4 separate regions of the Homo sapiens genome follow, and all the other regions are linked to region 3. The links come from fine-mapping of genetic effects on gene expression. A gene starts in region 3. Each other region holds a variant in brackets. All regions are shown on one strand. Distances are between the middles of the regions.

Region 1 (7,984 bases), 31 kb before region 3:
ACAGGCGTGACCTACCACACCCGGCCATGTCCTTCACATTTCCATCTTTTCTGCCTTTGTCCATGATGTGATCAGCCTGCAGGACCACACGTCTAGGTCTTCTGTACTTTCCTACTTAGGAATTTTCACATTTTCAGGCCCAGCTGAAAGCTTTTTCTGAACCTCTCCCTATCTCCCTCTTCCTCTGGCTAGAGGACCCCTCCCACCTCTGAAATCCCTTAGCTCTGAAAGTGTTACTGATTTTACATTAGCTTATTGAACTGCAGTTTGCTTTATATTTGCATGCAAGGAATCCATTTTCCTGACTATAATGTAAGCCCTGTTTCTAAGTTGCTGCTGTATCCTCTAACAAACATTTTTATATAAGGACAGTCTTTTTAAAAAAAAACAGATTTAGTGGGATATCATTCACATATCATACAGTTTACCCATTTAAAGTGTATAATTCGATGGTTTTTACTATGTTTTCAGGGGTGTGCAAACATCACCAAAATCTAATTTAGAATGTTTTCATCACTTCAAAAAGAGACTATGTACCCATTAGTGGTCAATCCAAATTTTCTCCCAACCCCAGATACCTACCAACCAACTTTATTTTTCTATGGATTTGCCTATTCTGGACATTTCATATAAATGCAATAAAACAAAATGTGGCCTTTGATGACTAGCTTCTTTCACTCAGCGTGATGTTTTCAAGGTTCATCCATGTTGTAGCATGTATTAGTGCCTCATTTGTTTTCAGGGCTGAATAATATTCCATTGGTTGGATACATCACATTTTGTTCAGCCATTCATCCATTGATATTTGGGTTGTGTCTGTGTTTTTGTTTATTATGAATAATTTTGCTATGAACATTTGTGTACATATTTTGTGTGGACATGTATTCCCATTTCTCTTGGGTATACAACTATGTTTAACATGTTTTTCAAACCATTTTTTTTCCCTCTGTTCTCACATCAACACAGTAATAATGAACACAGAAGACTTCTATGACCTCAAAATATGTGGGTATTTCTCTCTACCAGCAAGCAAGCAATGAATTCTGTAGATGACACCCAAATGGTCATCCTCTAATTCAGTGCTGGTACTATCTACTTGGAGATAGTGTCAGATCTCACAGTTTGAGGGATCAGTCCCCTGAGACTGTGTCCCCCGCTTTAGACCCAGTCACAAGTCTGGGATTCCAAAACTTCTGATCAACCATCTTTAAGTTGGGGTTCCCATGCCCCCCTGGATTAATTTGCTGGATTAATTTGTGTTTGATTAGTTTGCTGGAGCAGCTCTCAGAACTGAGAAAAACAATTGTGTTTACAGGTTTATTATAAGGGCTATTACAAAAGATACAGATGAAGAGAGGCATAGGGTGAGGCATGGGGGAGGGAAAGCAGAACTTCCATGCCCTCTCCTGGCATGCCACCCTCCAGGATCTCCATGTTCCAACTATCTGGAAGCTCTCTGAACCATGTCCCTTTGGGTTGTCATTGAGGCTTTATTACATAGATACGGTTGACAACCATGTAGAAATGTGATTGGACAAAAAGTGCCTGATCTAAACCCAGTAAGCTTGTCTATTCAGACTTTTTGTGGCCTCTCTGCATAGCATTCCTTTCCCCAGGGTTTGAGGCAGGACTGCTTCTGGAATGAGAGTCTTTTGACCCACAGTTAGATTAAAGGCTTGCCTTGGGAAGGTGTAAAGAGGACAGGAGAAGGTCAGAGAGAGAGATTCTATTTCCTGAGGCCTGCTTCTGAGGCTAAAACACCTCAACATTATAGTAAAAGACTGTAACAAGGGCTAGTGGAGTTATTAGCCAGAAACCATAGAGGAAAACCTAAACATATAATCATAATATCACAAGTTATGAATGGAATTGCTGGGTTATTGGCAACTCCATGTAGAACATTTTGGAAAAACTGCCAAATTTTTTTCCATAGTGGCTACATCATTTTACATTACCATCAGGAATGTATGAGGGTTCCAGTTTATCTACATCTTCACCAGCATTTATTGTTATCTTTTTTATTATAGCCATCTTAGTGGGTGTGAGGTGATATTTCACCATGGTTCAATTTTTGTTTCCCTAATGATTAATGATGTGGATTGTCTTTTCTTATGCATGTTGGTCATTTATGTATCTTCTTGGAGTACTACCTATTCAAATGCTTTGTTTTAAAATTGAGTTACTTTTTCTGATTGTTGAGTTGTAGCAGTTCTTTATATATTCTGCATACAAGTCCCTTATATAATAAGATCTATAATGTGCCAATATTGTCTTCTACTCTGTGGGGTGTCCTTTCAATTTCTTGATGGTGTCCTTTGAAGTACAAAAGTTTTTAATTTTGATTTGTGAACTCCAAATATCTGAGAGGGTCTCAGTTAATTTAGAAAGTTTATTTACAAAGTTTGTTTTGCCAGTGTTGAGGATGCATGCCCATGATATAACCACACAAAGTCCTGATGACATGTGCGCACGGTGGACTCATGGAGAGCTAAAATGTCCGTGAATATCAAGCAAAACAGGAATTAACTGCATGGACTGTACTCATCTTTTTGACTTATTGCTTAAAACATTGCTGATCCTTTGTTTTGTTTTTCGGAGTCTTGAAACTTTTCTTTTGAGCTATTGACAGCTTTTAACAATTGAGTACACTCCTATGAACAAAATTTGGAGCATATTTGTTTCTCTCTACCTGATTTCTGAAGAATTTGGAAACTATTTGTGAGTATTCTTAACTTACGACAATACAGTTATTTGCATAAGTGCAATAAGAATCTGTTCTCATTTGTAAGAGGACACAATTGGAGAAACTGGTTATTTTACCAAGGCTTTGACTGGAATGGCATGCTTTCCTTAAGGAATAAAACCTGACTTATGCAGCCAATAAAAGCCCTTGGGAAAACTGGCCTCATACTTTGTCTACAGAGTCCCTGTACAGGGTTTCTGACCTGTCGTTAGTAAAGAATGTCACCTTCTGACAGGCCCAGGAGCCCTAGGTTTATCTTGGAACCTCAAGAGGAGAGGTAATTCACCCAACTCATAGGTATTTGGTGGTGGCACAAATCCATCGCGGGGTTCGGCTTTAAAAATGTCTTGATATTTCTTCTATGGAACAAAGTTTCATCAAAGCCAATTTTAAAAAGCCTATGTGAAAAATAATTATTCTTGCTGTACTTTATACAAATAATCTGGACAGGTAAAATAAAGCAGGTTGGTCCTACCATGATTTGTCTTTAGTGAAAATGGGAAACTGGAGAGAGAGAAAAAATATGTTTCAAAAACTATAGTACACTTGTTGTTAGATTCTAGTCTTGCCTAATGTTTTTCAATTTTTATTATTTTCTACAGTTTGGGCTGAACTCTAATTTTTCCTGGCTACAAGTCTACAAAATAACATTTTCAATATTTTTTTTCTTTCTTTTCTTTTTTTCCCCAATTTTTCCTAATTTGAAATCACTGAAAACTAAGCTGTGTTTCTTAAAGCCCTGCAAACTGAAGCTAGACAACTTAAACTTCAGAAGAAAATAACAGCATCCCATTTACATACATAAGCCACTTTCCAGGATCATTCTTTTGTTTGCTGTTGTTTTTCTCCCTTCCTCCCCTTATTTTCTCTTTATAGGACATGAGACTTCATAACCTGCTAAAAATGAACTTTTGGGACCTACCTGTCTAGGAATAAACCATCCTTGCCATGAGAGATCAGATGAAACCTGAAATCAGAGACTCATTTTCTTCTAAAATACTTTCTCTAAAAGATTTTAAAAAAGAATAGGGGGGAAGTGTGAAAGGAAAATCTTGGGGCCCCCAAATTACTGAACTAAAGGTAAAAGTCAAGCTGGGAACTGGTCAGGGCAAACTTGCTTCCCATTCTATTCAAAGTCATCCCTCTGCTCACTGAGATAGATGCGTATGTGATTGCCTCCTTTGGAAACGCTTATCAGAAATTCAGAAGGATGTAACCCTTTGTCTCCCACCTCCCTGTGACCTGGAAGCCCCCTTCCTTGCTTCGAGTTGTCCCCGTCTTTCCGGATGGAACCAATACACTTTTTACATATATTGATTGATGCCTCGTATCTCCCTAAAATGTATAAAACCAAGCTGTGCCCCTTTTTCCACTGTTCTGATGTCACAATCTCCAAAGTTATTAGAAACCTGCATTCAAGGGCACCAGTTATAGCTGATTATAAAACAACTGTCTAAACAGTACCAAAGCAAGAGAACAATTGTCTGTGGATGACAAAATGTTTTAGGGCCACCATAGTCAAAGACACAATTGGCAAGAAAGTTTGTTACCTTTGTGGCACATAATAATTTTAACGTGACAATTATGATTATTACTGATAATGTACACTTAGTCATATCAGAATTACAGGAGTTGCCCATAATTTTGGAACACATACAAATAACATATTTACACAAATATGGCCCAAAGAAAACCAAACACTGTTTCATACTGAGGGAAGAGAGAGACCCTCTCCTATTGTTTGATATTGTTTTACACTCAGAAAAGGAAAGAGAAG[C/T]GAAACTAAAGGCAGGTAGCCTGGCGCCTAGGAACCAGACCCAAAACCAAGGAACCAGATCTGAAACCAGGCCTGGGCCTGCCTGACCTAAGCTGGGTAGTTAAAGATCGACACCTGACCTAGCAACTGTTGTTATCTATAGATTCCAGACACAGTATGGAAGGACGTTGTGAAACCTCCCGTTCTGTTCTGTTTCACTCTGACCACTGGTGCTTGCAGCCCCTGTCACGCAGCCCCCGGCTTGCTCAATTGATCACGACCCTCTCACGTGGACCTCCTTAGAGTTGTGAGCCCTTAAAAGGGACAGAAGTTGAGCACCTGACGAGCTCGGATTTTAAGACGCTAGTCTGCCGATACTCCCAGCTGATTAAAGCCATTCCCTTCAGTGTCTCGGTGTCTGAGGGGTTTTTTCCATGGCTGGTCCTGCTACATTTCTTGGTTCTCTGACCAGGAAGCGAGGTGATTAATGGACGGTCAAGGCAGCTCCTTAGGCAGCTTTAGCCTGCCCTGTGGAACATCCCTGAGGGGGACTCCAACCAGCCGGAGCGACACGGATCCTGAGAGTGCTCCCGGGTAGGCATTTGCCCCGGTGGGACACCTCACCAGAGCAGTGTGTGGCACGCCCCTGTGGAGGATCAACGCAGTGGCTGAACACCGGGAAGGAACTGGCGCTTGGAGTCTGGATATCTGAAACTTGGTAAGACTAGTCTTTGGAACTTGCCCACTCCATTTGAGTGGAAGCATGGCCTGATCACCCATGGTGTGCCTTTATCAGCACTTTGGTATTGGTTTTGACTTGGTTTGAATTGCTTGATAGGACTGGTCTTCGGAACTTGCCCACTCCATTTGAGTGGAAGTGTGGCCTGATCACCCACGGTGTGCCTGTACCGGCACTTTGGTTTTTGTTTTTGACTTGACTTAGGTTGCTTGATACTTTGGTTCTGGTTTTGACCTGGCCTGGATTTCTGGATACTCTGATTTTGGTTTTGATTTTGGTTTGGTGTAAACCGCAAAAGTGTGTGTGTGCCCTTTTTACCTGTTCTTTGTTTTGTGGTGTATGTGTGGTGTGAGTGTGGTGTTTTGTCTTGAAGAAGCATGGGTCAGGCACAAATAAGCCCACCCCGCTAGGAACTATGTCGAAAAAATTCAAGAAAAGATTTAAGGGAGATTACGGTGTTACTATGACACCAGGAAAACTTAGAACTTTGTGTGAAATAGACTGGCCAGCATTAGAGGTGTGTTGGCCATCAGAAGGAAGCCTGGACAGGTCCCTTGTTTCAAAGGTATGGCACAAGGTAACCTGCAAGGCAGGGCAACCAGACCAGTTTCCGTACAGAGACACTTAGTTACAGCTGGTTTTAGACCCCCTTTCCCAAAACAGTAGTTAAGTGAACAGCAGCATAAGCGGCTGGCAGAGGCAAGGAAAGACCAGCAGAGAGAAAGAGAGGAAAGAGACAGAGAGAAAAAGAGGCAAAGAGAGAGAGGAAGAGACAGAGAGACAAAGAAGGAGTCAAGAAAAGAGAGAGGCAGAGAGAGAGGCAGAAAGAGAGGAAGAGACAGAGGCAAAAGGAAAGTCAAAGAGAGAGAGAGAGAGAGAGAAAGTCAAAGAAAGAAAGAAAAAGAGAAAGAGAAATATACAAGTAGTTAAGAAAAAAACAGTATACCCTATTCCTTTAAAAGCCAAGGTAAATTTAAAACCTATAATTGATAATTAAAGGTATTCTCCATAACCCTGTAACACTCTAATACCACTTTGTTGTCAGTGTAAACAAGGGCATATCCCGAAAGCACTGAGGTCTTCCTATCAAAAATCCTTAATCCAGTAACCCGTGGATGGCCCAGATGCCTTCAATCTGTAGCGGCAGCTGCTTTGCTAACGGGAAAAAAAAGGGCCATCTATACTAATTCTAAGTTAATTTAGACTAAACGAGGTCTTATTAATAGCAAAGGATAACTGAAATCCCAAACTTACAAGGTTTTCAACAAAAGTAAAGTTTGCTAAAGTTAACAGTGTAACATGTATTACAGTAACTTCTAATCTTGTGGCCGTAGACAATCTAGTCCACAGACATAAAGAAAGTTCGCTTTAAAAAAAAAAAAAAGAATGGTTATCTTCAAAAAAAGAAAAAAGGAAAAAAAGGGGGAGGCAGAATTTACATAAAAGAGTGTTATATGGTAAATTCTTGTCCTGAAATAAATTAACTGGTTGTTTAAAGAAAGAAATGTTTATAATAAGTCAGAAAGTTGAGACATGTCGAAGAATTGTCTGTGAAAGTCATGAAAGAAAAAAGGTTATAAAAAAATTTTATGCAAAAAATGTTGTATAATTTAAAAAGCAATAAGGCCTCCTGAGTAGTATTGAAGAAACAGTTTTATGTGCAAGGTGTATAAGAAAAGTAAAATATACCTTTGGTAAAAGGAATATAAGGAGGCATAAGAATGTGGATTTTTACCTACAGTAAAAGGTTAAAAAAATTATTGTTTTGAAAGTTTAAGCAAGTTTTAAAACATCAATTGTAAAGAAAATTCTGTGTGTAAACATATTAGCTAAAGTTAAAAAGGTATCATCCAGTTTTTCTGTGAACTGGACATTAAAGTAAAAACACAACAGGTTTTTCTTAAAGCACCAACCTGGTCTTTAACAAAAATTATAAAAGGTTAAAAAGAGTCTATAAAATCTTACCTTATGGTCAAACATGAAAATTTGGATAAATATGTCTACAAGGTTTTATTAAAATTAAATTTAACATTAATAACACACTAATATAAAGGTAGAGTTTAGCTTATCTGGTATAAAAATCATACAAGAAGCATTATTAAATATAAAATTGTGTTTAGCTTTCTTTGGTCTAAAAACTAATAAAAATAGGTGCTAAAGGAAACATGCATTTTACTAGAGGATCATAGAAGTTAAAGACTTAAAACAAACTTTGGCAATTAAGACAGCACAACAAGATGCAAATGCCTGGTTGGAATGGATCAAATATTCCATCTGCACGTTAAACAAAAGCAATTATTATGCTTGTGCACATGACAGGCCAGAGTCCCAGATGGTCCCCTTTCCACTAAGGTGGTCCTCCAGTCGACCAAGCATGGGCTCCATGGTAGCTCTTTTCCAGGATTCTACAGCCTAGAGTAATAAGTCGTGCCAAGCTCTCTCTGCTATATCCCAATGTCCGGCACCCCGTAGGTCAGCCCCCGAAGGCCATCCAGCTTCTGTCTCCCAACGCTAAGTTCACTTCGTGTCTCTCATGACAGGGAGGAAACTTAGCATTCCTTGGAGACCTGAAGGGATGCAGTGAGCTTAAGAATTTTCAAGAACTTATCAATCAGTCAGCCCTTGTTCATCCCCGAGCGGATGTATGGTGGTGTTGTGGTGGAACTTTACTGGGCACTCTGCCAAATAACTAGAGTGGCACTTGTGCTTTAGTCCATTTGGCTGTCCCTTTAACCCTGGCATTTCA
Region 2 (7,984 bases), 93 kb before region 3:
ATACATGATAGTCACCATCACATTAAGACCTTTCTAATAAGATTCAGTGTTTGTTATGGAGGAAAAATTGAATTGTAACATAAACTTTCTATGTACTTTGGCTGTTATTGGAAATGTTGCATATAACTTAAATCATTTTCTAGAGGAATTTTTTTAAGGATTTGATTTTACATCCGTCTATAAAGTTAAAAATTGCTGTTTAATTTGTCATTTAGGTAAATTGATTTTTTTATTATTTAAACCATACGAACAAACACTAGACTGTGAGTTGAGACCCGCAGATAATGATCAGGCTCAATTCCTTGTTCTTAATAAAACCAGGCTTCAGTTTTCCTGTCAATGAAACTGATGAACTCAAAGAGCCTGTTCAGATATAAAATTGTATAATTGTTTTTCTAGTATTTTTCTATTTTAAGATTTCCCAAATTCAGTACATCTGAACATTTTAACCCTCTGTTAGATTTGTTAGGCATATTGGTGGTGCCATGTGGTATTGTAGCATCACTGAGGCCTAAATTAGAAATAGGAAATTATTTTATTCAAAGCCTTTTTAATAAACAATAAAATTTGTGTTCAACATTGCTAAGTGGTTTCAGGAGAATATTAAAAAAATATTTGCAGTACTCCTGGTTTGGCATTCCTGATACTGAAAAGTATTTATCTTTGTGTCCCTGTTTCAGTCATTTCTTGATTTTTAGTGACCAAACAAAAGGTACCTAATTTCAAACTGAAATTTTACTCCAAACCCATGTCTCACATCTCTAATGTGAACAAATAAAGTAGGGCCAAAAGAAGTAGCCATAGCTATTTGTTTCAAGTTTTTAGCTTGAGTGAAAGGTTTTCTTGTCATTATTCTGAATGATATATCTTAATTTGTCCCAGCAGTACAACCCAGAGAGTGCCTGCTGCTTCCCCATCTGCTCACAGTATTAGTACTGCGACTCCAGACCGGACCCGTTTTCCCCGAGGGAGCTCAAGCCGAAGCACTTTCCATGGTGAACAGCTCCGGGAGCGACGCAGCGTTGCTTATAATGGGCCACCTGCTTCACCATCCCATGAAACGGGTGCATTTGCACATGCCAGAAGGGGAACGTCAACTGGTATAATAAGCAAAATCACATCCAAATTTGTTCGCAGGTCAGTACCAATGTACTGTCGTGTTTTGATTCCTCTAGAAATTATAAAGGAAACTAGACTTTTTAAAAAAATCTTTATAATAATTTTCTAAAATGGTTTCATAACATTTCATTAGAGCTGCTCTTTTACAGAGTTGGAAGAAAAAAATCTAGGAAGACATAAAGTATTTTTCCTTAAGAGAGAGAAAGGAAAAAATGGACAAAATGAGATTTTAAAAATCTGTAAAATAAAATGGAAAGAACAAAGACTTAACTTCAAAAATGTGTGTTTTAACAAAAGATTATTTTATATTTAAAAGCCTTGATTGAGGAAAAGAAATGAGTTTACATGTTTCCTTCAAATTTATCTTGACAATACTTTTAAATTGCTTACTAATAATATATAATTTACATTTTTTTCTTCTTGCATAAAAAGCCTACACACCAGAGTCACAGATCACTTATGCAATTTTACATCATAAAACCTTATCATCAAAACATAGTAAACACAAAATGAATACATGTATAGTAAAGGTCTAATCTACTTAAACAATACAATTATACTTTCTAAAAAGTAAGCATACTTACTATGCTTACTATGCATACGTGTACAGTGCACATTGATGATACAAGTTGCTACTACAATGCAGGCTGATGTGGATTTCATCTATTCCTGGTCCCACTAAATGCCTACTTAAGCCCTGCGACAGACAAAGCACTGTGTTAGGTGCAGAACAGAATCTAAAGATAGGTAAGATGGCATCTGTGCCCTCCAGATTCTTATAGTCTTGTAAGAAGCAGACAAACAACTAGCCATGATATAAAGCAGAACATGTGCTAAAAAGTGTGGGCAACATGCTGGATTCCAGAGGAAGACACAATTGTTTCTATCTAGGGAGACAGTGAAGGCACCCTATCATATAATCATTTCAGCTGAGCCTTCAATGATGGGTAAGAAATAATTATACTTGCTTTAAGAAATACTAATTAAATACTTAGTTTCCAATGTTATTAGTGTTTCTAGGATTTCAAAGAGTGGATGTGGAAAAGAGAAGAAGCAGCTTCAGTCTTACTTGCCTTGTCATGGAGCTATTTATAGGCTTGGTTCATACATCAGTTTGCCCAGTATCACATAGCTGAATTAAAAACTTTAAAGCCTCAAATGTAACATAAATTTCTAACCATATCAGTCAGTGACTTTGTACCATTGGGGCAATTACTATGCAGCATGAAACTTGCTAGAGAAAGAACTAAAAGTTCACCAACAGAGTCAGCATGGAAGTTAGATCATAGTGTTAGCCGGCCATCTGCAGGGTACTAGTCAGATTATCAGTAGTTTCTGCTTTTGGAATTTGTCTATTTAAGGCCATTTCAAAAAGCCAGTACTTTCTCATGGTTAAGCCAGAATTAATTTTAAAGTGAAGAAAAATAGGTTTATAGTTTAGTGCTTGATTACTAATTGTGCATTAAGCATTGTGCAAAATATTTCTCTTAACTGCAACAAAAATTTAGACTCTAGGGGAAACAGAGTACTTTGGAAAGGAAGTCGTGAGATAGAATGCCAAAGCAAGAAAGTGCCTTAGAGCTGGTCTGTTGGGAGGTTCTGATAAAGATTGCCATATAGTCTTTGAACACATATGTGGAGACCTACTACACGCAAGGCCCTTTTGTAGGAGCTATTGCTACGGCAGTGAGTGAGACTGATGGGTCTCCTGCCTTCCTGTGAGCAACTTACTATCTTGAAACATTCCACACATTTAAAGCGTTTCCCTTGCTTGGCTCTGGTTTTCTCCTACCTCACAGACTAGCTATCACTTCTCAGGCTCCTTTGCTGGCTTTTTTCAGATTCCCTTGCCTTTCCCCCAACCTCTAAATATTAGAATGCCCCAGAGCTCAGTCTTTGGACACATTTTTTTCTCTGGTTTTCCTTACACTCTTGGTGATCTCAGTCAGGCTCATGACATTAGATTCCGTCCTGTATGAACAACTCCTAACTGTATCTCTAGCGCACATCTTTCTGCTGAACTGCAGACTCATATCCAACTGCTGCTCAGCCTCTCCACTTAGATACGTTATAGACTCTGAAACAGAACATGTTCAAAAGTAAACTCTCGTTCCTCTTCCCAAACCTGTCCCTCCCTCATTCTTCACCGTGTTAGAAATTGGCAGCCTTGTCCTTACAGTTGCTCAGACCATAAGCCTTGGAGTTATCCTTGACACTTCTTTTCCTCATACCACCTCAGATCCATTGGCAATTTGTGTTGGCTTTACCTTCACAGCATTTCCAGGATTTAACTGCTTGTATCACTCCCGCCACTGCCTTCATACTCTGAACCACTATTCATCTTTCACTTCCTCATAGGTCTCCTAGTTTCTGTCCTTGTCCTCCTCTTCTGTTTCAGCAGTGTCATGTCAAGTCTGATCATGTCACTCTTAAATTTAAAGCCCCTGATTAGCTTTCACCTTGCTCAGAATACAATTCTGTGCCCTCACTGTGGCCTGTGGGGCCTTGTGTAACCTGGCCATCCATTTCTGCTCTGACCTCTTCTCCCACTCTTCCCCTTGCTGCTTCCACACCAGCCACACAGGGACCAGACTGTCCTCAAGTACATTAAGCACTGCTTTGGCATTGTGTACCTGCTATTCCTTCTGCCTGGAATTCTCTGCCCTGAATACCTGCATGGCTCACTTCTACACCAAACCTTATGATTTTCTAACCATAGCTCATTCTTATATAGGGAACAACCCAGTTTGTTCAGTTGAGTATATATTGCTATCTGTAGGTAATTGTTTTTTAAGTGTTAAGTGTTGGAGAGCATGCTGTGCTGCATATGCTGTTAGAGCCAGCTGCACCTTCTGTAGCTCCATCTGCCTCCTACCATGGCTACTTAAAGCAGACTTCCTGGGCTCTTTGAAACAATTGCCAAGTAGCAGAAATTTTTCCAATGTTCCTACTGGCATCCAGGTAGGCAGGAACAGGGTATGGGTCAATTGCTATTTCAGTCAATTACAGCAGAGGAGATAGGGTCTAAGGGACATTTCACTCCTAATGTTTTAAGTTTGGCAGCTGTGGTATAGGTGTTTGCTAATAGTGAATAATAAAGCATAATATAAATAGGACAGAAAAGTCCAGTGAGATTTTTGTCCCTTCCTAAAGGAATTTTGTCTTAGCAGTGGGAGTCAACAGCATTACTGTCTTGCTTGCCAAGTTGGTATACTGCCCATCTGTGTATATCAGTTCATCTACATGTAACTGAAAATGTACATTTCACTTTCAGCCTGCTCAAAAATGTTTTATTTATTTCAATGTGCTATAATAAAAATGGATTTGTATAGATGGCATTGAATTTTTATTATACTTCCCAATGAAAATGCCAGTTATTAAAAATAGAAATTTAAGAAATTACATTTGAATGTGAGAATACATTTTAGTATTCTTTTAAATTCAGATAGAAAA[AT/A]TTTTTTTTTCATAATATGTTTGTTAAGAAAGGCATGTATTAGTTAAAGACCCTGAGAGGCATAAGGCGTTCATATTCTTAAGAACAATTTAAAATTTTAGGGCTTGGTATGTGGGTGTGTTTTATGAATTTGGGGGATGGGAGAGTACCACTGATTTTATTCTTATTGCATTCGTTTTACATAAATAATAGAAATGTTTCTGGAATGGCTAAAACATTAAGACAGTATTAACTTAAGGATTCAAGTTGGTGATTTTTCCCACTATTTAATAGTATTTTACCCTTTATCACAAGATATTTAATTACCTTTAAAAATAACAAAGCATTAAAATTTTGGTAGACTTCAAAAATATTAATTACATGCAACACAGAACAATTAGTAGTGTTTTCCTGGTTTTATTTCGCAGGTGGATATCCAGGTAAGGTCAGTGTTTTTATTTAAGATTGAATCCGTGTTTTTAGACTTGCCTACATGGATAGGCTGTTAATTTGCTGTGATATTTTATCATGTGCATGAATTGTTAGCATAACTTCTAAAAGAAATTGCTTATTTGGAAATTGGTGTTTATTTGCTAACTACAAGGTTAATGTATATATTTTCTAAATTGAGCGACTACTAGAATTATACATAATTACAAATTTGAAGTTGAATCTTGCTATTGATAATTATTAAATAGTTTTAACTTTAGATTAAACTAAACCAAAAGATAAATTATGACTTCAAATGAATCATGGCTGGGAATTGGAAGATTATGAAAAAAAAATTTCAAACTTTCACCTCATATTGCCTCTTGACAAAAATGAGTAGACGCTCAATAAATGATAAATTACATGCGGTTATGGTGAAAAATATGAGAAATAGTCTCAGACTGACTAGTAATAGAAAACTGTCATGGTAGAAGTTTGCTCAACAAGCTAATTTTAAAATAATTTTAGATATAGGTTTTCTTGATATATTTTTTACTTTTATCATTAAATCTCAACCTTCACTTTGTTTTGAGGGATCCAAGTGAAGGCGAAGCCAGTGGCAGAACCGACACCTCAAGGTGAGGAGCCACTATTAATACTTCGCTGCTAGGTCCCTGTGTATGAAAACGTACTTTTGAAATACTTACAGCACTTAATGATCATGAATAGATCTAATAACTAGATAGCATGCGTATTTTAGATTTTTATATTGGGGTGGGTTTTCATAATGTTACCTAGCATTCAAGTCAGTCAACTTTAAGTTTGTTTTCCAAACATGCATTTGAATTGTGTACTTGGTATAGAAATAGGCTTTCTGTTCTATAAAGTATGTCAAGCTAAAGAATTAATAGATTAAATGTACTGATATTTTTCTCACTAAAGTAATGTAACTAAAATTAGTCTGAGTCAAATAGCACAAATAACACAGAACAGGGAGATAATTACATGTAGGAAGATTTGATATTAGTAATATATTTTAGGTGATAATTCAGTGTTTGACCACATTTAAAAATTCTATCCAGGCATACTTTTGGGGATTTCTTTTTTTGACATTTCATGCTAGTTGTATATTCATTCTGGCAATGGGTTTCATACTTGAGCACAATCAGAATTACAGGGAAGGCTTGATAAAAAGGTTGCTGGATCCCACTCCCAGGGTTTCTGATTCAGGGGCCGAGGCAGGTGCCTGTGCATTTGCATTTCTATCAAGTCCCCAGGAGATGCTTATGCTGCTGTTCTAGGGACCACATTATGGACATGTTAGTACTTGTGTTCATATTTTACAAACGGGAAATTTAAGAAATGAAGACATTAATTTATTTTGAGTGTACCCAAGCATTAAGGGATGCAATGTAAATTTTACAACCAACAAGTATTCCACAGTATGAAAGGCTCTGGCTTCATTCAGGAACGATTGTGACCAGCTGAACACAAACCTCCAATTTGATTTCTACTTTTCAAGTTACTTAAAATATAAAACATAATTAACTTTGGAAAACTATAGCATTCCCATGTAGTCTTTTTAACAAACTGTGCTATATTTACATTTAGTAATAATAGTTGAAATGTTTCTTTGTAGAGTTAGGTACCTGAGTCACCACAGTAGGGAGCCACAGGGGAGCAAGACAAATATTCTTCACTTTCTTCTGCCTTTTATAGAAACATGGAGGACTTGTTCTTAGCCTCTCCCTCACTTAGTCTTCACTTTTGAGCCCCTCCTTGCATTTCATCCTATATTTCCACTAAATTTCCCTCTGAGACATTTAGTAGTGTGTGGCATTGCAAGTGGCCCTTAATAGTTGCATTTTTGTCCTTTTAATGTAACTATATAATTTTATTACATTATAAGAATTAGTAACTGATATTTTATAAATGTTTACACAATACTTTTCACATTCCCTTTTGTTTGGTTGTTGTTGGGTTTGGTTCTATTTTTGCTTTTGAACTGACTTATTGAATACTAACTATAAAGTACTTTCTGATCATTTAATTTTCACAACAACTAGGTGAAAATGCCTATTTTACAGATGAAAAAAAACAGCAAGGAACATAGGTGGGATCAAGCCAGCTATAATAAGGTTCTGTCATTTCAGGGAGATGAGGTGATACTGTGGTTAGAAGTATAGGTTCTCAGCCAGAGTGCATGGGTTTCAGCTATGTTCCACCACTTACCTTACTGTGTGGCTTTGGGGAAGTTACTTCAACTCTGCGTGCCTCCATTTCCTCACTCTAACTGCCTCATAGGGTTGTTCTGAGGGGTAAATGAGTAATTAATACATTTTAGGCACTTAGGACAATTCCTGCACCTAGTAAGTACTCAATAAATGTTAGCTGTTATTATATTAATATCCACATTTCCAGGAGCTTTCTACAATGGACATTATCAGTGGTAATGTCTGTGAGACCATGCAGAAAAATATTTCATTGTCTTAAGGTCATCTTAAGGTGGAATAGAAGGAAACTAGACTTAGAATAATATCCCTAAATTCTAGTCTTCACTTTTCAACTCATTAGCTCTATAACTTCAGAAAACTAATTTTTTTTTTTCTTCTGAGACAAAGTTTTGCTCTGTTGCCTAGGCTGGAGTGCAGTGGCACGATCTCAGCTCACTGCAACCTCCACCTCCCAGGTTCAAGCAATTCTGCCTCAGCCTCCCAAGTAGCTGGGATTACAGGCGCTTGCCACCACACCTGGCTAATTTTTGTATTTTTAGTAGAGACGAGGTTTCACCATGGTGGCCAGGCTGGTCTCAAACTCCTGAGCTCATGGTCCTGCCACCTTGGCCTCCCAAAGTGCTGAGATTACAGGTGTGAGCCACAGAAAACTAATTTTAAGTTTTCCAGCCATCAGTTCCATCTTTAAAATGAGTGCTCAGTCAACTGATCTCTCAGGACCCTTCCAGGATGCCGATTCCACCAGAATTATACATGTGACCTTGGTAAA
Region 3 (7,984 bases):
TTCTCATGGTTTAATACCATTCCCCTTGGTGCTATCATCCTGAGAGTGAGTTCTCATGAGATCTGGCTGTTTAAAAGCATGTGGAACCTCCCCCCTCTCTCTGGGTCCTGCTCCTATCATGTAAGACATCCACTGCTGCTTTGTCTTCCACCATGAGTAAAAGCTCCCTGAGGTCTCCCAGAAGCAGAAGCCGCCGTTCTTCCTGTACAGACTGCAGAACTATGAGCCAATTAAACATTTTTTCTTGATAAATGACCCAGCTTCAGGTATTTCATTATAGCAGTGTGAGAATGGACTAATACAGCCTCTCATCACCCCTCACTAATTCTACAAATGAAGATGCTGGGCTGCAAATGTACACATTACTGATAAGGAATTTCCCTGCTCCCCTGAAGGCACCCCCAACCCCAGCATTGGTGAAGCTTAAACAGGGCAGGCTATGATAGATAATGGCTGGTGAAGACAGCAAAGACTTGGCAGCACTCACCATGGCAAAGTTCCTCACTTGATGTCTATCCCCATCATTTTGCACATGAGGAGGTGGAAGCATGGAAAGGTCAAGTTACCCATCTATCTAGGTAACTATTTCTTCTTTGATGTCTCAAAGATACCTCTCACTCGCTGTTCACAATAGGCTCATCATCTTTTTTCCCAGACTATCTTCTTCTCTTGAATTCTCTTTTTTTTTTTTTTGAGACGGAGTCTCTCTCTGTCGCCCAGGCTGGAGTGCAGTGGCGCGATCTCGGCTCACTGAAAGCTCCGCCTCCTGGGTTCACACCATTCTCCTGCCTCAGCCTCCCAAGTAGCTGGGACTACAGATGCCCACCACCATGCCTGGCTAATTTTTTGTATTTTTAGTAGAGACGGGGTTTCACTATGTGAGCCAGGATGGTCTCGATATCCTGACCTCCTGATCCGCCCACCTCGGCCTCCCAAAGTGCTGGGATTACAGGTGTGAGCCACTGTGCCCAGCTTCTCTTGAATTCTTAATCTCTGAGAATGGTACCCCCATCCCACCCCAGACTTTTATGCCACAGAGCCAGGAGGCCCCGTGGGCTCTTCCTCTCCCTCTGGCTCTGTGTTCTGTCATCACTATCTCTTGTTAATTCTGTCCCCTGACCATCTCTCCTAACCACATGTCTATCTCCAGCCCCACTGTTATTTTTCCTTGATTTGGAATTACATCAGCCTGAACTAGGGCATTTGCAACTCATCTAACCATCTTTGGTGTTACTCTTTCTCAGAGCAGCCAGAATGGCCTTCCTAGCACCCAAGTCTAATCATGCCAGACTGTTGTTCAGAATTCTGAGGTGTCTCCACATTAAGTAGAGATAAGATGCCTGTTGATCTGACCTCTGCCCACCTGTCCTGCCTCAACTCCCGCCACCTGCTGCATGCACAGGTACATCCTAATACAGCTGGATTGCTGGTGGTTGCCCAAACATGCCACACTCTCTTGTTCCTTCCATTTTTTCAGGCTATTGCACGTGCTGCTCCTTTTGCCCAGAATCCTCTCCTTTACCCATCTCCAAGCCCCTCCTCATGTTCAAGTCTCAGCTCCAAAGCTCCGCCCTCTGAAAACAGCACTGTCCTGAGATTCAGCTGCTCTTTTGCCTCTGCATCCTCTGCATCTTGACCTTGCTTCTCCTCTGACATTATCCTCTAGACTTGCAGGGGAGGTGTCAGTCTTCTGGGGAGTCAGTGAACTGGATGGAAGGGCAGCTTCTTCTAAACTTTAAATCCCCAGTGCCAATCTAGGACGAAGCCTGGTGAATGATCAATATCTATGTGGTGAAAGAAAGAGATGATTAATCAATAAGACATTTGCCCTGTCTGGGAGCTCACGTATAGCGAGGCGATGGCTTTGTAAGCCCCTCACTCTGACAGCAGGCTTGTGGGCAGGGAGGACTCTGACCCTCCTCAGGAGTTGGGAGAGGCAAAGGGGGTCAGCTACAAGTGTACACACATCACATTCACCACACCATGCTTAAAAAACAAATCCATAAGTCGCAGCTGCCAAGCATGATGTAAATGTATGGGGATTGAGGGACTAATTCTGCTGGCCTGAGGTTTTTTCCTGGGTGGGGAGAGATTCAGGCCCTGTTTTGTCTTTCACTTTTCACAAGGAACAGCCAAAGGGAACCTGGCTCCTCTGGTTCTCCATCCTTCCCGGAGTCTCTTCCCACACTCCAGAACGGGCCCCTTTCTCTGGAGGTGGCCAGCCCAGATTTGGGGGGTGGCCCACTGGTTGGCCTCCTTAAACTTTCCTAGAACTGTGCCACAGTTTAAGGGACAAACTTTTGAAAAACAGAACAACAACAAAAAACTTGAAAGACTTCAAACCTTAATTTGTCTGAGAAAATCCACTGTTAACCCAATAGCTTGCTTGAATGGAGGTGTTAAAGATCAACAAAGCCAGACATTAGTTAAACCATGAAAACAGATTTTACTCAGTAACTACTTACAGTAGGAGAAAAAGCTGATCATTCTCATTTGTGCATAGCAGAATGGGCGTTTTAAAGGGTGAAGGAGAGAATAGGGCCGGGAAGCTAGCAGGGGATCAAGTGAAAAATCATGAAGGGGCGGTCAGTATTAATGACGGGCAGCTGTGCCTGGAGCTGGCCGTTATGAAGCTGGGATTCTATCCTCCCACAGAGACTGGGGGACAGAGGCCTATCCTCCCCATGACTGCATTTCAGAGCAATGGCTTTCAGGTCCTTGAGAAAGACACTTCTGAGGTGTAGGCGATACATATACATCTCAAAGCAACAGAGAAAGGATTCACAGTTGTAAGCCCTTTTAAGAAAATATCCTAAAAAAGGGAGGTCAGGGGCTTTACCATCGGGTGTTGGCTAGAATAAACGGGGAATTCTCCTGGCTGCCTTGAGCTTTCTCGGGAAGACATTTTACTGGGGTCGAGGTTAGGCGGCAGCGGAGGGTGGGGGACCTTGAGTCATGCTCCTATAAGCCACGCTAGAGTTCCTCGTCTTTGAGTGCAGAGGTTTAGACTGTGTCTTTGTGTGCAGAAAGTCCTGCAGTTCTCACAGCGACCTGCCAGAAAAAGTCGTTCCCAAATGTTTGTAAATCCTCCGTTGGGCAACCCGCCTTCACGTTCTGCGGTGATCTTGTCGAGCGACTAAGCGTGCAGTATTAGCAGAGAAGGGGGTGGCAGAGTGCTGGCGCTGAAGGTCATGTTGCATGGGTAACTGTCGTGTTGTAGGGGCGGGGAAGAGGGAGGAGACACTGACCACCCCAGAGGCCGCCCCATTAGCTCGCTTGCTTTGGGCGGCGTCGCTCCCACGGCGCCCAGGGTACCCCCGCCGCTGTCTGCCTGTCTTCCTCCATTACCGCGCAGGCTTGGTCACCGCATTAAGGCATTCCCGCTCTCCGCGGAACTGCTCTGCCGTCTCGGCGGTGAAAGTGTGAGAGGGTCCGTAGTTGGGTCAACTTTGACTCCTCTCGCCTGCCCGGATCCTTAAGGGCCTCCTCGTCCTCCCGGTCTCCGGTCGCTGCCGGGTCTGTGCGCCGGTCCGCGCCCGCCCTCGCTCTGCCATGGGCGCTTCCAGCTCCTCCGCGCTGGCCCGCCTCGGCCTCCCAGCCCGGCCCTGGCCCAGGTGGCTCGGGGTCGCCGCGCTAGGACTGGCCGCCGTGGCCCTGGGGACTGTCGCCTGGCGCCGCGCATGGCCCAGGCGGCGCCGGCGGCTGCAGCAGGTGGGCACCGTGGCGAAGCTCTGGATCTACCCGGTGAAATCCTGCAAAGGGGTGCCGGTGAGCGAGGCTGAGTGCACGGCCATGGGGCTGCGCAGCGGCAACCTGCGGGACAGGTACAGCACAGCGCGGGCGCGGGGCAGCGCGGAGCCTGCCTGGGATGAGGAGCGGGGGGGCAGGTGGGGCCCGATCTATCTGGGAAGGACTATAGAGGTTTGCCACCTGAGTTTCTGGGCTGACTGTTGGGCCGTTGGTCGTTTATCTGGGAAGGCCAAGTTCATGCCAGGTTTATTTTTGGTAAAGTAGGTAGGGGCAATCCCTTGCCCTTCCCTAGACGAGAGATTCCTCCTCTGTAACAGGAGGGGGTCTGACCTGTATCTCCAAGTCTCCTTAGCTCTAAAGTTTGTGATTCTATCCTAGTATACCAAAGTAGAAAAATAAAGCTATTGGCACTAGAAAGCAGCAAGAAAGAAACCAAGTGTTGTTCAAGGACATTGGCTTAGGCCTTGCTGGGCCTTGTTCCTCACATTTCTCCAATCCTGGGGGTGCCCTGGAGGCCTGATACACTTTGATGAAGGATGAGCAAGTGGCATGGGGACTCTGGGGCAGAGGTGATACTTGCCATTAAGGGAATAGTGTCCCCCCTTCTCCCATAGGCAGAGTTGTTCACAGCCTGGAACTTTGGGACTTTTGGGCCTGACACATAGACATTTCATACTTAGGATTAAGATGCCTTCTTCTTTTTTTTTTTTTTTTTTTTTGAGACAGAATCTCACTTCGTAGCTCAGGCTGGAGTGCAGTGGCACTATCTCAGCTCACTGCAACCTCCATCTCCCAAGTTCAAGCAATTCTCCTGCCTCAGCCTCCCAAGTAGCTGAGATTACAGGTGTGCGCCACCACGCCCGGCTAATTTTTGTATTTTTAGTAGAAACGGGGTTTCACTCTGTTGACCAGGCTGGTCTCAAACTCCTGACCTCAGGGAATCCACCAGCCTCGGCCTCCTAAAGTGCTGGGATTACAGGTGTGAGCCACTGTGCCCAGCCAAGATGTCTTCTTATCTGGCCGAGATGGTTTAGCTGTGGGCCTGTGTCCGAGGGGAGGGAGGTTTGCAAGTTGATCATTCAAGGATTCCTCTAGCAGAGAGCCACCTGCATCCCTGTGTTCACTCCAGGACACGCGGATGCACTGTTTTCTGAAGACTGCTGCCCTCTTAAAGAAATGTGGACTTCCATGGTGTTGGAAAACTTCAGAGAGTCTTAGAGAAGTGTTGTGTACACAGACCATATGAATCATGGGAGGATTTTCATTCTCCCACCCTTACCCCAGATTTCTTATCCTGGAGAGCTTTTTCAACTATAACTTCCTGAGATTCCCATCCCAGGACTACGGAAGCAGAATCACCAAGAGTGGGGCCAACTCGTGTAGAATGTTTAAATCTCCCCCTGGTGATTTTGATGCTATAATTAAAGGATTTTATCCGAGACCATGAAGAAGAAGAGGATGTTTAGAGCTTATTCAAATATGAAGGATAAGAAAAGCCTTCCTATTACTGGAAAGACTTCAGGCTGTGTGGGACTGGACACCTTCCAAAAAACTGGGAGAACCAAATTCTCACGATGCATGTCCAGAGAAAATTAGTGTTGCAGGCTAGGTTGCACTACTTCCTTCCTCGCTTGAAGGGTTGGTTTCACAGACAGTTTCCAGTTCTAATCTGCGTTTCCTCTGATCACCTGAAGAACGGTTTCTTTCCCACTTCTCTTTGTCACTGCTTTGCCATGACTACTGCAACCATGGAAAGAAAATACGTGTCCTTTGCCTGTGCTTTTTGCTCCCACTGGCATCCTAAAATAAATACAACTGTATTACCTTTCCCTTGTTTTAAACAATAAACGCTTAGGATGGGGTGGGGTGATGTGAAGCCTGGGGTAGAGGGAAAGGCAATGAAATTAATGTTATTCAGTGTTAAAATGCAGCAGACACTGAGCTAAATCCTGTCGCATAGATTAGCATATTTAAACCTCATAACAATCTTGTGGGCTAGATAGTATTATCACCATTTTGCAAATAAGGAAACAGTATCAGAATGAAGGAGTATCCCATCCAAGGCCAGAAAACCAGTGTGTGCTGTGGGGATGTGAACTCAGATCTGTGTGAGTACAGAACTTATGCTGTTTGTATGAAACCAGTGCATGATATAAAACTATAAGGATTGCACTGAGGATCAGGAGACTTTGGGCGAACTTCTACAAAGTTGTCTCATTTGCAAAAGAATGAGGTTGAACTTCATGGTCTCTAAAGCCCCATTTTAACTACATTTTATTTATCAAAGCATAATTAACAATTTGAAAGCAGGCTTGCTGGAGAGAACTCTGTTTGATAGCCGCTGTCTTCTCCACCTGACAATTTAATAACACTACTACAAATGTTCCTAGAGTTCAGGGAAAGGCCTCATTTAATGAATTCCATTCTGAACCTGTGTCTTTGGAACTAACTGTTCCAAGGAGCTGGGATTTTCCTCTGGAAGTGCTCTGGGTCTCAAATTTCTAAAGGTATTTTGTTCAAAGCTCTTAGTATACTTGTGAACACTTGGCTTGAGCACCCTAAGCATTGAGTGTTTAAAGTCCACCTGGCAGAATGCTGGCATTCGGTGCCTGGTGCAGTTGCTGGGAGGGCGTGCTTGTCCTCCCTGACCTTGGAAATCTCTGCTCTCCTTAGCAGCCATATGTGAGTTGATCAGTTTTATCTCTCTAAACCCTTACTGAAGCCAGTCCTTTATTTCTTCTGCACAAATGATGAACTGTTGGAGAAAGGAATCCCTTAAGTTTATTATTGTCCAGGGTGTTATTCCCTGCCCAATTCCTGCTGTTTTTCTCCTCCCACACTCAGTAGTAGAGTTCCTGCTTTCCCTCACTTTTCAGTCCTTCCTGCTCCCCAGGCCAGTTTGTAATTGAGAAATGATATTTTTTTCTGTTGTTTTGGGCTCCACTTACCCGTTGCTGTTGGTTGTTCGGGGCTCTATAGCTCTTTTGGGGAATCGGGGCTCCAGGCTTCTACACTGATCCCTCTACCACATACTCATGTTTTACCTGTGAATTCAAGGTGCTGGCTTTTAGTGTTGCAGACTAGGTTGGGGTAACTTGGTTATGATGAAATCTATGCTCCAGACTTATCTCTTCTTTCAGATCTGGCAGAATAGAACTAGTTATTCATTCACTGGGCATCATTTTGTGCACAAGAGGTGAAAAATAATATTGCCCAGGTTGACAGGGAAATGAGATGGTTGGGGTATGTTACAAATGGTAACCTTTTAACCTGTGATTGCTGTATTTGTCCTGTTCCAAAATTGGACTCCCTGTAAGTTGCCAGTTTTTCAGTGACAGTGATGAGTGGGAAACCTCTAGTGACAACTTCCCACTGTTAACCTCAGCAGTTAACACCTGTATTATTATACAACAGTCTGGAGCCACAGGCCAGGCTGTGAGCCACGGTGAAGGGCGACATTAATAAGGGATGAATGGGAGATGAGAAGATTCAGCCCATGGAGAAATAATGTCAGAAATAATGTGCAAACAGGTTTGCCACTCCTGTTTGGACATGGCTCTGGTTGTGTGCAGATCTCAAAGGGAGTCTTGTCTGGGGAAGGGGCATGTTGGAAGTTAAGGGTGAAGGCTTTAGTGAGGCTAACCAAAGAAATGTGCACCAAGGGACAAGGCTGGAAATAGGGAATAGGGCCCAGCCCTGTGAGGCATCTAAGTCAGTGGATGCCTGCCTATTTCACTGTAGCCCCATTCTCTGGGCAGACATCCTCAGATTTACAGAACCCAGCCCCAGGATGAGTGAGCCAGAGAACTGTGGGATCTAAAGACATCTTTGACCAGGCAGGATGGCTCACATCTGTAATCTCAGCACTTTGGGAGGCCAAGGAGGGAGGATTAATTGAGCCAGGAGTTCCAGACCAGCCAGGAGGTCCAGACCACAGTGGGACCCCATCTCTACAAAAAATAAAAAGATCAGTTGGGCGTGGTGGTGTGTGCCTGTAGTCCCAGCTACTCAGGAGACTGAGGCAGGAGGATCGCTTGAGCCCAGCAGTTCAAGGCTGCCATGAGCTAAGATCACGCCGCTGTACTCCAGAGCCTGGGTGATAGAGTGAGACCCTGTCTCCCTCTCTCTTGATATTAATTAAGTATAAATATATATAAATGAATAAATAATACACATATGCATATATACACTTAGGAAATGGTGGGCTGGGCACGGTGGCTCACGCCTGTAATCC
Region 4 (7,984 bases), 27 kb after region 3:
ATGATGGGTTAACAGGTGCAGCAAACCACCATGGCACAGGTACACCTATGTAACAAACCTGCACATTCTGCACATGTATCCCAGAACTTAAAGTAAAATTAAAAAAAATTCTTCATCATCATACTATTAAAAGGTAGCCTGTGATAACATTTTGTTGTGTTTCCAGTATGGTTTATACAATATTGTAGAAATAGTATTAAATTCCACCATTTTCATTTAATGGCACATGGCAACCAGCTCTGTCTTTGCAAATCCTTCATTTGCGTGGTTCCAGTGGTTCCATGTTAGTCCATCCTGTGACTCTGCAATAACTTGTTTAGCCATTCCCTTATGATTGAGCATTTAGGTTGTTTTCCATTTTCTCTCACATAAATAATGAGCAGCTTTGTAAAATGGTGGGTATCTACATTTCCAAAAGTATTCTTAGGAAATGCTAATGCAGCATTTTAAAGGCTCTCTGTATATATTGCCAAATTGCTTTCCAGAAACCTTATACCAATTTATATTCCCTCAAGGTGAGCATAAGCGTGCCCTTTTCATTGTGCTCTTCCTGGCATTGCTATAATTTTTACTAATTTAGTAAGTGAAAAGTAATGTCCTATGTAAGTTGGTAATTCTTAGTGTATGGCATCCTGTCTTAGTCCCCAAATTCTAAAATATTCATATTTGCAGCAAATGTTTGAGGGTTTCCTAGTGCTAGTCTCTGAGATAGATGCTAAGATTACAGAGATGACCTCACTGTGTCTGCCTGCAAGGGTCTCAGGGCCAAGTGGGATCAAGGCTACAGTAGGTAGAGGGCTGCAGCTGAAGTCAGGACATCAGACTTGAAGGATCCCAGTGAGAAAGAGGCACTCTGGGCAGGGTGTGTGTGTGTGTGTTTGTGTGTGTGTGTGTGTGTTTGGGGGCAGTGGATGCTGAAGACTTGCTTGATATGAACTGGATCCAATTGCGGGAACCATGGCATGGTCTTTCTTTATAAGAAGAGTGATTAGATTTTGAAATATGACATTAAGGAATATTCATTAGCTTGTATGTCTTAAGAATAGAAAAAATAACTTTCGGTTTGAGATCATTTAACTCTGGTATAATGGGAAATATATATTTGGGCTTCGTCTCTGGTTCCTGGCACAAGCTCCTAAGCCCTTGGAATTTCCCGAGTGACGGGGTAAGAGGAGTTTCTTTTGTCATTCATAGCAAGCCCCTTTCAATCATACCTGACTTTATGCTAGTGAGATGACTCTTGGGGAAAGAGGGGTGTCCCTAGACAGCTTTGGTATGTGAGCTGGTTCTTAGAAAGACTAAGCCATGATTAGAGGGTTGGGACTTTCAGCCCCACCCAGCCCTGATCTCAGGGGAAGGGAGAGGGGCTGGAGGTTGAGTTCAGTCACCAATGGCCAATGATTTTATCAATCATTTACATGAAATGAAACCTCCAAAAAACCCCTGAAAGATGGGGTTTGGAGAGCTTCTGAGTTGGAGAACACATTGAAGTTCTGGGAGGGTGGTGCACCCGGAGAGGGCATGAAAACTCGGAGAGCCTCCATCCCCATCCCTTGCCCTAGACAGCATTTCCATTGGGCTGTTCCTGACTTGCGTCCTTTATAATAAGTCAGGAACAACAGTAAAGCCTTTTTTGAGTTCTGGGAGTCATTCTAGAAACTTGTCAAACCTTAGGAGGGGATTGTGGGTACCCTCAATTTATAGCCAGTTGGTGAGAAGCATGGGTGGCCTGGACTTGGCTGGCATCTGGGATGGGGGGCAGTCTTGTAGGACTGAGCCCTTACCTAAGGGATCTCTACTTGCTTCTAGTAGTGAGTGTCAGAATTGAGTTGAATTGTTGGACACCCAATTGGTGTCAGAGAATTGCAGAAATGGTGTTGGAAAAGACATCATGTATTTGATGTCACAGAGAATCTAATGAACTATCTAGACAAAAATTATTTTTAAGATGTGCTGTTGGGATTATACCTCTTATAAAAAATAAAGCAAAAAAGGCAAAAGAAAAAAATTAAGATTTATTATGAAAAACAAATAATGTTTAAATCTTGGTGAGGAGCCTTCCAGATTTATTGCTATAAATGTATACACATAGCTATGTATACAGATTTTTTATGTACATGGAATCATCCTCTATTATATATAAACACACACACACACACACACACACATATAAAATGTGCCTTGTGTTTTTTTCACTCAGCAACACCTTGAAAAGTGTTCAGTGTTAATAGATATAGACTCACATCCTCGTTTTTTTTTTTTCAGACAGGGTCTCACCCTGTCGCCCATGCTGGAGTGCGGTGACGTGATCTCGGCTCACTGCAACCTCTGCCTCCCGGGCTGAAGCCATCCTCCTGCCTCAAGTCTCCTGAGTAGTTAGGACCACAGGCACACACCACCACACCTGGCTAATTTTTGTAATTTTGGGAGACACGAGGTTATATCATGTTGTCTAGACTGGGAGCACCCTTTTTTAATACCCGAATAATGATTATTGCACATATGTCCCATGTATATTTAGCCAGTCTCCAGGAGGTGACTTGGAGCTTTCTATAATCATGTAGAGTCATTGATATCAAGTCAGAAAAATTGCTATGGATTTAGAAACAGAATAGTCTTATTTACATATTCCCTCGACTTATCACAAAATAGTTTAAAGTTGTTTCTAACAATTGTGCGTACAACACAATATTATAAACACATGAGTAGAAAACCAGGAGCAGTGAAAGTGAGGCGCCAGTCCTGCGACAGAGATTAAGCAGATGAAGGGGCTGGGATGGTGGTGGCAGGAGGCTCAAGGAACAGAATCCCAAAGGCTTGGTGGCCTGGATCTAATTTGAACTGCTGCTCTGATCTGTGGTCTTACAAGTGATGTCTTTCATAGCCCATTGCCACGGCAGGCCATGCAGGCTCTTTCCACCTCACTCTCAGCGGTCTTATACTTCTGTGGTCAGCTGGTATTTAAGAACTCACCTTGGCCTCCATTCTCACCTGACTGTGCACTCTCTCTGGCTATACATAGAGAGATGGACTATATAGGTAGAGATATATATTCTTCACATCTGTATCTACTTCCTCTGTCTGTGTGGATATAGCCATGCAATTGTGTGTCTATATAGACCCGTGTGTGTGCGTGTGTGTGTGTGTGTGTACACACATTCGTATGCATCTACGGAGAGAGAGACAGGAAAAAAGGGAGGGAGACTCTCCATTAGTAGTCAACTTTTAAGTTTCATACATCCAATTTTTTTGCTTGGCAAATGCCTACATGGATCTATGAAGGTTTCAAACAGACAAACACCCTCAGTTGTGTGTTCCACAACACCCACCCGCCCCACCCTTATTTCACTTCTCTCTCTGGGTGCTGCTTGTGATGGAAAACCCTCTAGTCCTAATTTAGTATTTACAAGATGTGCACACGTTCATTCATAGCAAATCCTCAGGATTATTTCCTCAGAGCTGAACCCTTATGTATAGTACTCCCCTTTCTCCTTGCCTTTTCCTCTTCCTTACCTTGCTTCTTTCATCTTGAAAACTCCATAGTTTTATCCCATCACTCTAAGTAAATGTCATTGGGGCCTGGATTTCGGCAGACTGCGGAAAGGTTGATTACCAGCAGGGGGCGCACTAAGCGTCTCGAGCTGATTTTGTGTTTAGGGAAGACCCCGGAATCTTTTTCTCTACCTATTTACTTATTTATTTTTATCTTTCCAACTTTTATTTTAGGTGCAGGGGTACAGGTGCAGGTTTTTTATATAGGTAAATTGTGTGTTGCTGAGGGTTTGGTGTACAGATTATTTTGTCAGGCAGGTAATAAGCATAGTACCCTATAGTGTTTCAATTCTCACCCTCTTCCTACTCTCCACCCTCAAGTAGGCTCCCGTGTCTGTTGTTCCTTTCTTTGTATCCATGTGTATTCAACATTTAGCCTCTACTTATACATTAGAACATGTTGTATTTGGTTTTCTGTTCCTGCAGTAATTCTTTCAGAATAATGGCCTCCAGCTCTATCTA[T/C]GTTGCTGCAAAGGACATAATCTGTGTTTTTTTATGGCTGCATAGTATTCCATGGTGTATGTATACCACATTTTCTTTATCCAGTCCACTGTTGATAGGCATCTAGGTTGATTCCATGTCTTTGCTGTTGTGAACAGTGCTGTGATGAATATACGCGTGCATGTGTCTTTGTGGTAGAATGATTTATATTCCTTTGGGTATATACCCAGTAATGGGATTGCTAGGTTGAATGATGGTTCTATTTTAAGTTCTTTGAGAAATCTACAGATCGCTTTCCATGGTGGTTGAACCAATTTACATTCCTACCAACAGTATATAAACATTCCCTTTTCTCCACAGCCTCGCCACCTGTTATTTTTTGACTTTTTAGTGATAGCCATTCTGATTGGTGTGAGATGGTAGTTCATTGTGGTTTCGATTTGCATTTCCCTAGTGATCAGTGATATTGAGGATTTTTTCATGTGCTTGTTGGTCGCGTGTATGTCTTCCTTTGAGAAGACACTGGAACTTGCTGAATAGCGTATTTCACTCTTTGTATGTCTAGTAGAATGTAATGGAAATTTTAATTTCATGCATTATTAAATTTATTTTAATAGTATATAATTTATTATTTTAAATAACTGAATTAATAATTGCATTTAAACTTAATTAGCATAGTATTTTTTTTACTGCAAATAATGCTTTACACCAAAATGCTGACAATGATCAGATTAGGTTGAGAATATATATGATTATAGGTGGTGATTAATATTTTAGGAAGTAACTAGAGCCGGCATTTGGGGGTGTTGCGGACGATTCTTACGAATCCAGACAATTTGCTCTTTTAAACGCGGCCTTGCGGTTGTCTAACAGTGAGAATAGATGACTAACTGAATTTGTCAGACTCCCTGCCTTCTGTCATAATAACGACGCAGAATTGCCACCGTTATGTGTCTTGGAAATCTTAAATTCTTTAGCTCTCACACACAAAAAATTGAACGGAAGATACTTGGAGAGCCAGGGTCCATTCAGCACAGCGCGGCTGGGTCGGCTTCCATTCCTGGGTCCGCAGCGCCCTCGTGTGGTAGGTGCCCAGCCTTCCTGGCTGCATCTCAGGCCAGGGTACCCATTGATCCTTACTTCCCAGTACAGTAGCTGCCTTCCTGGGTCACACCCCATCGGAGGTCACGATCTACCAGGAGGTTAGCCACCCGCTGTGGTTGTCTTGTAGTTCTTCGCAATAAGTTACTGGCTAGGAGTGCTTGTAATAAGTCCTGAGTAGGACATGGCGATTCCATTCCTTACACATGTTGTGTACACGCAGTTATCCTCAACTGGTTGGTTGGACCGTGGCGTTTATTTCCACAAAGCAGCAGTTTCCTAAAGGATGGTTTAGAACCCAGTGCATCCATGGAGACCTCCTTACTTTAGTCTCTAGCTGTGGTCATGCCCTGTAGGAGATTTCTGAGTTTTGAAGACCCGGTTAGGTACTGGAGAATCATTTGCATTTGCTGAAGCACCACTATAGGCCCGGGAGGGGGTTGGAGGGGCTGGCTTGCCACTGAAGGAGGACCAGACATGGCCTGGTCATCAGCGGCAGAGGGAGAAAAGTTATGGGGCTAGTCCCTACCCCCTGCCCTGCTCTGCCTCCTGCAGAGACTTCAGACCTCTTATGCCTCCTGCCCAAGCGAAGCAGCCAGGGGAGTAGGAATAGGTTTCTTTAGTTCCTAAGTCAAGACGATTGTTTCTCCGAATTCCTTAGACTCACAGTCTATGTTGTTGATTTATGGAGGCAGTAGTGAGGCCCCGTACCCCAATGCCTCCTACCTTGAGACCTGGACAGAGGATTGCCCTGTGAAATTCAAACCTTAAATCAGTAGGTAGCAGCAGAGACAGGCATGGTGCCTTAAAGATAAAGAATACAGATGGCCTCCCTATTCACGGAGGGGCCTGCAACCTTTATATAGCTCTACATACATCCCCTCCCGTGTGCAGATGCTTCTTGACTTACCATGGGGTTACCTCCCAATAAATGCATCATAAAGTCAAAAAGTTGTAATCTGTCTGGATATATGTATTGGTCTGTTCTCACATTGCAATAAAGAAATACCTGAGACTGGATAATTTATAAAGAAAAGAGGTTTAGGCTGGGTGCGGTGGCTTACACCCTGAAATCCCAGCAGTTTGGGAGGCTGAGTTGAGCGGATCACCTGAGGTTAGGAGTTCAAGACCAGCCTGGCCAACATGGCGAAACCCCATCAGTACTAAAAATACAAAAATTAACCGGGCATGGTGGCACTGCCTGTCATCTCAGCTACTCAGGAGGCTGAGGCATGAGAATTGCTTGAATCTGGGAGGCGGAGATTGCGGCTGCAGTGAGCCGAGATTGCGCCACTGCATTCTAGCTTGGGCAACAGAGTGAGACTCTGTCTCAAAAAAAAAAAAAAAAAAAAAGAAAGAAAGAAAGAAAAGCGGTTCATGGTTCTGCAGTCTGTACAGGATGCATAGCGGCTTCTGCTTCTGGGGAGGCCTCCCGAAGCTTCCAATCATGGTGGAAGGCAAAGGGGGTCCAGCTTCCTACATGGCAGAAGCGGAAGCAAGAGAGCGAAGGGGAAGTGCCAGACACTTTTAAGCAACCGGATCTCGCAAGAACTCACCCACTATCATGAGAACAGCACCAAGGTGGTGGTGCTAAACCATTCATGAAAGATCCACCCCCATGATTGAATTCTGTCCCGCCAGGTCCCACCTCCAACAGTAGGGATGACAATCCGATATGAGATTTGGTGGGGACACAGATCCAAACCATATCATGTTATACGTGTATATGTAATATTGAAGGAGTTAAGATCACATGAACCCAAAATATGCCGCTCCAGCATGTTGACTTTTTTGAGTTAAGAACACTTGAAAAACAGAGGTGCAAGAAGATCACTCTGCCCTTCCGTTTCTTAAAAGCAGGAGATGAAATTCCTGTGTAAAAGATGTCTCCCAATACCAGAAGGAAAGTGTCATGCTTATCATCAAGGACAAAAAGTTGAGGCTGAGGGAAATCTGTACAAACCCTGTCAAGCCAATCCTCATCTTCCCTGTCCCTCTCTACCTAGTTAAGTACCCTAGTCCTGCCACATCTTTGCCCAATTCTGCATATAATGTAAGTGTTCAACTCTAATTGCATCTTCATTTTGTCATGAAGGTTCCAGTGCCACGTAAAAGTTATATTAAATAAATATGTATGCATTTCTCCTGTTGATCTATCTTACGTCAATTTAATTACTAGGCCCAGCCAAAAAACCCTAAGAGGGTAGAGGTGATTTTTGCCTCCCTACAATATAATCCATATAACCACCTTATATATGTATATGTATGTGTGTGTGTATAAAAACAAATCATATTATATATATAATACAATCTCTATATTCCTCATATATGTTTCTGTATATGTGTGTGTGCACATATAAACATATATATGGTTAAAAGCTGGGTAGTTCAAAGTCCTACCTTCAGAATCAGTAAGATTTCAAACCCAGCTGCTTTACATCCTCCAGTGTGACCTTGAGACAATTTTGTATCTCTCTAGTCCTCCATTTCTTTGGGTAAAATGGGGCTCATGATAGCGCCTCCCTCAAAGTTGTGAGGATTGAGTTAATCCCTGAGGCAAGTGTTAGTGGTTCCCACGTTCAAGGGTGGGAAGGCAAGGCACAGTCAGTGGCAGTGGGATCAGGACCCCATTAGCAGGCTGCCTGTCTGTGAAGGTGGCAGCAATGAATGTGTGAATCATGACTGCCTTCTCTTGGGTGATGTCCCCACTCTTCAAAGAACCTTCAGATTGTAACTTGGGTTCCACTGCAGCTTAGCTACAAGGGAAGTGTGGGTTTGTCTTGCAAGTTACACATTTCTCATTGTATATCTACACATTGACTTTCCTGTTAATTTATGACTCTCATGGCAAACTGCACTCTATAGAAGATCTGTCATCCCTGCGATGATG

What was found. PIP is the estimated chance that this variant, and not a neighbour inherited with it, causes the effect. A credible set is the group of variants that fine-mapping cannot tell apart.
Region 1: its variant is the best candidate, but not a certain one, in a credible set for the expression of MTARC2 in whole blood (TOPMed, PIP 0.74).
Region 2: its variant is the best candidate, but not a certain one, in a credible set for the expression of MTARC2 in whole blood (TOPMed, PIP 0.88).
Region 4: its variant is the best candidate, but not a certain one, in a credible set for the expression of MTARC2 in nasal epithelium (TOPMed, PIP 0.89).

The regions. Positions count from the first base shown.
Region 1 is chr1:220,713,554-220,721,537 of GRCh38, forward strand. No RefSeq gene overlaps it. Among named protein-coding and RNA genes, the nearest start is that of C1orf115, 27 kb to the left of the region's middle. The variant C/T (reference allele first, on the strand shown) is at 4,521.
Region 2 is chr1:220,652,216-220,660,199 of GRCh38, forward strand. MARK1 (microtubule affinity regulating kinase 1) reads left to right here. Exons shown (of 18, transcript NM_018650.5): 16 at 886-1,137; 17 at 5,575-5,619. Among named protein-coding and RNA genes, the nearest start is that of C1orf115, 34 kb to the right of the region's middle. The variant AT/A (reference allele first, on the strand shown) is at 4,573.
Region 3 is chr1:220,744,980-220,752,963 of GRCh38, forward strand. It overlaps MTARC2 (mitochondrial amidoxime reducing component 2), which reads left to right and starts at 3,343. Exons shown (of 8, transcript NM_017898.5): 1 at 3,343-3,824. The coding sequence starts at 3,553. It overlaps LOC124904516 (a long non-coding RNA gene), which reads right to left and starts at 3,836. Exons shown (of 2, transcript XR_007066884.1): 1 at 2,840-3,836; 2 at 1-1,784.
Region 4 is chr1:220,771,822-220,779,805 of GRCh38, forward strand. All of the region lies in intron 4 of MTARC2 (mitochondrial amidoxime reducing component 2), which reads left to right. Among named protein-coding and RNA genes, the nearest start is that of MTARC1, 11 kb to the right of the region's middle. RefSeq lists a silencer at 3,538-3,692. The variant T/C (reference allele first, on the strand shown) is at 4,015.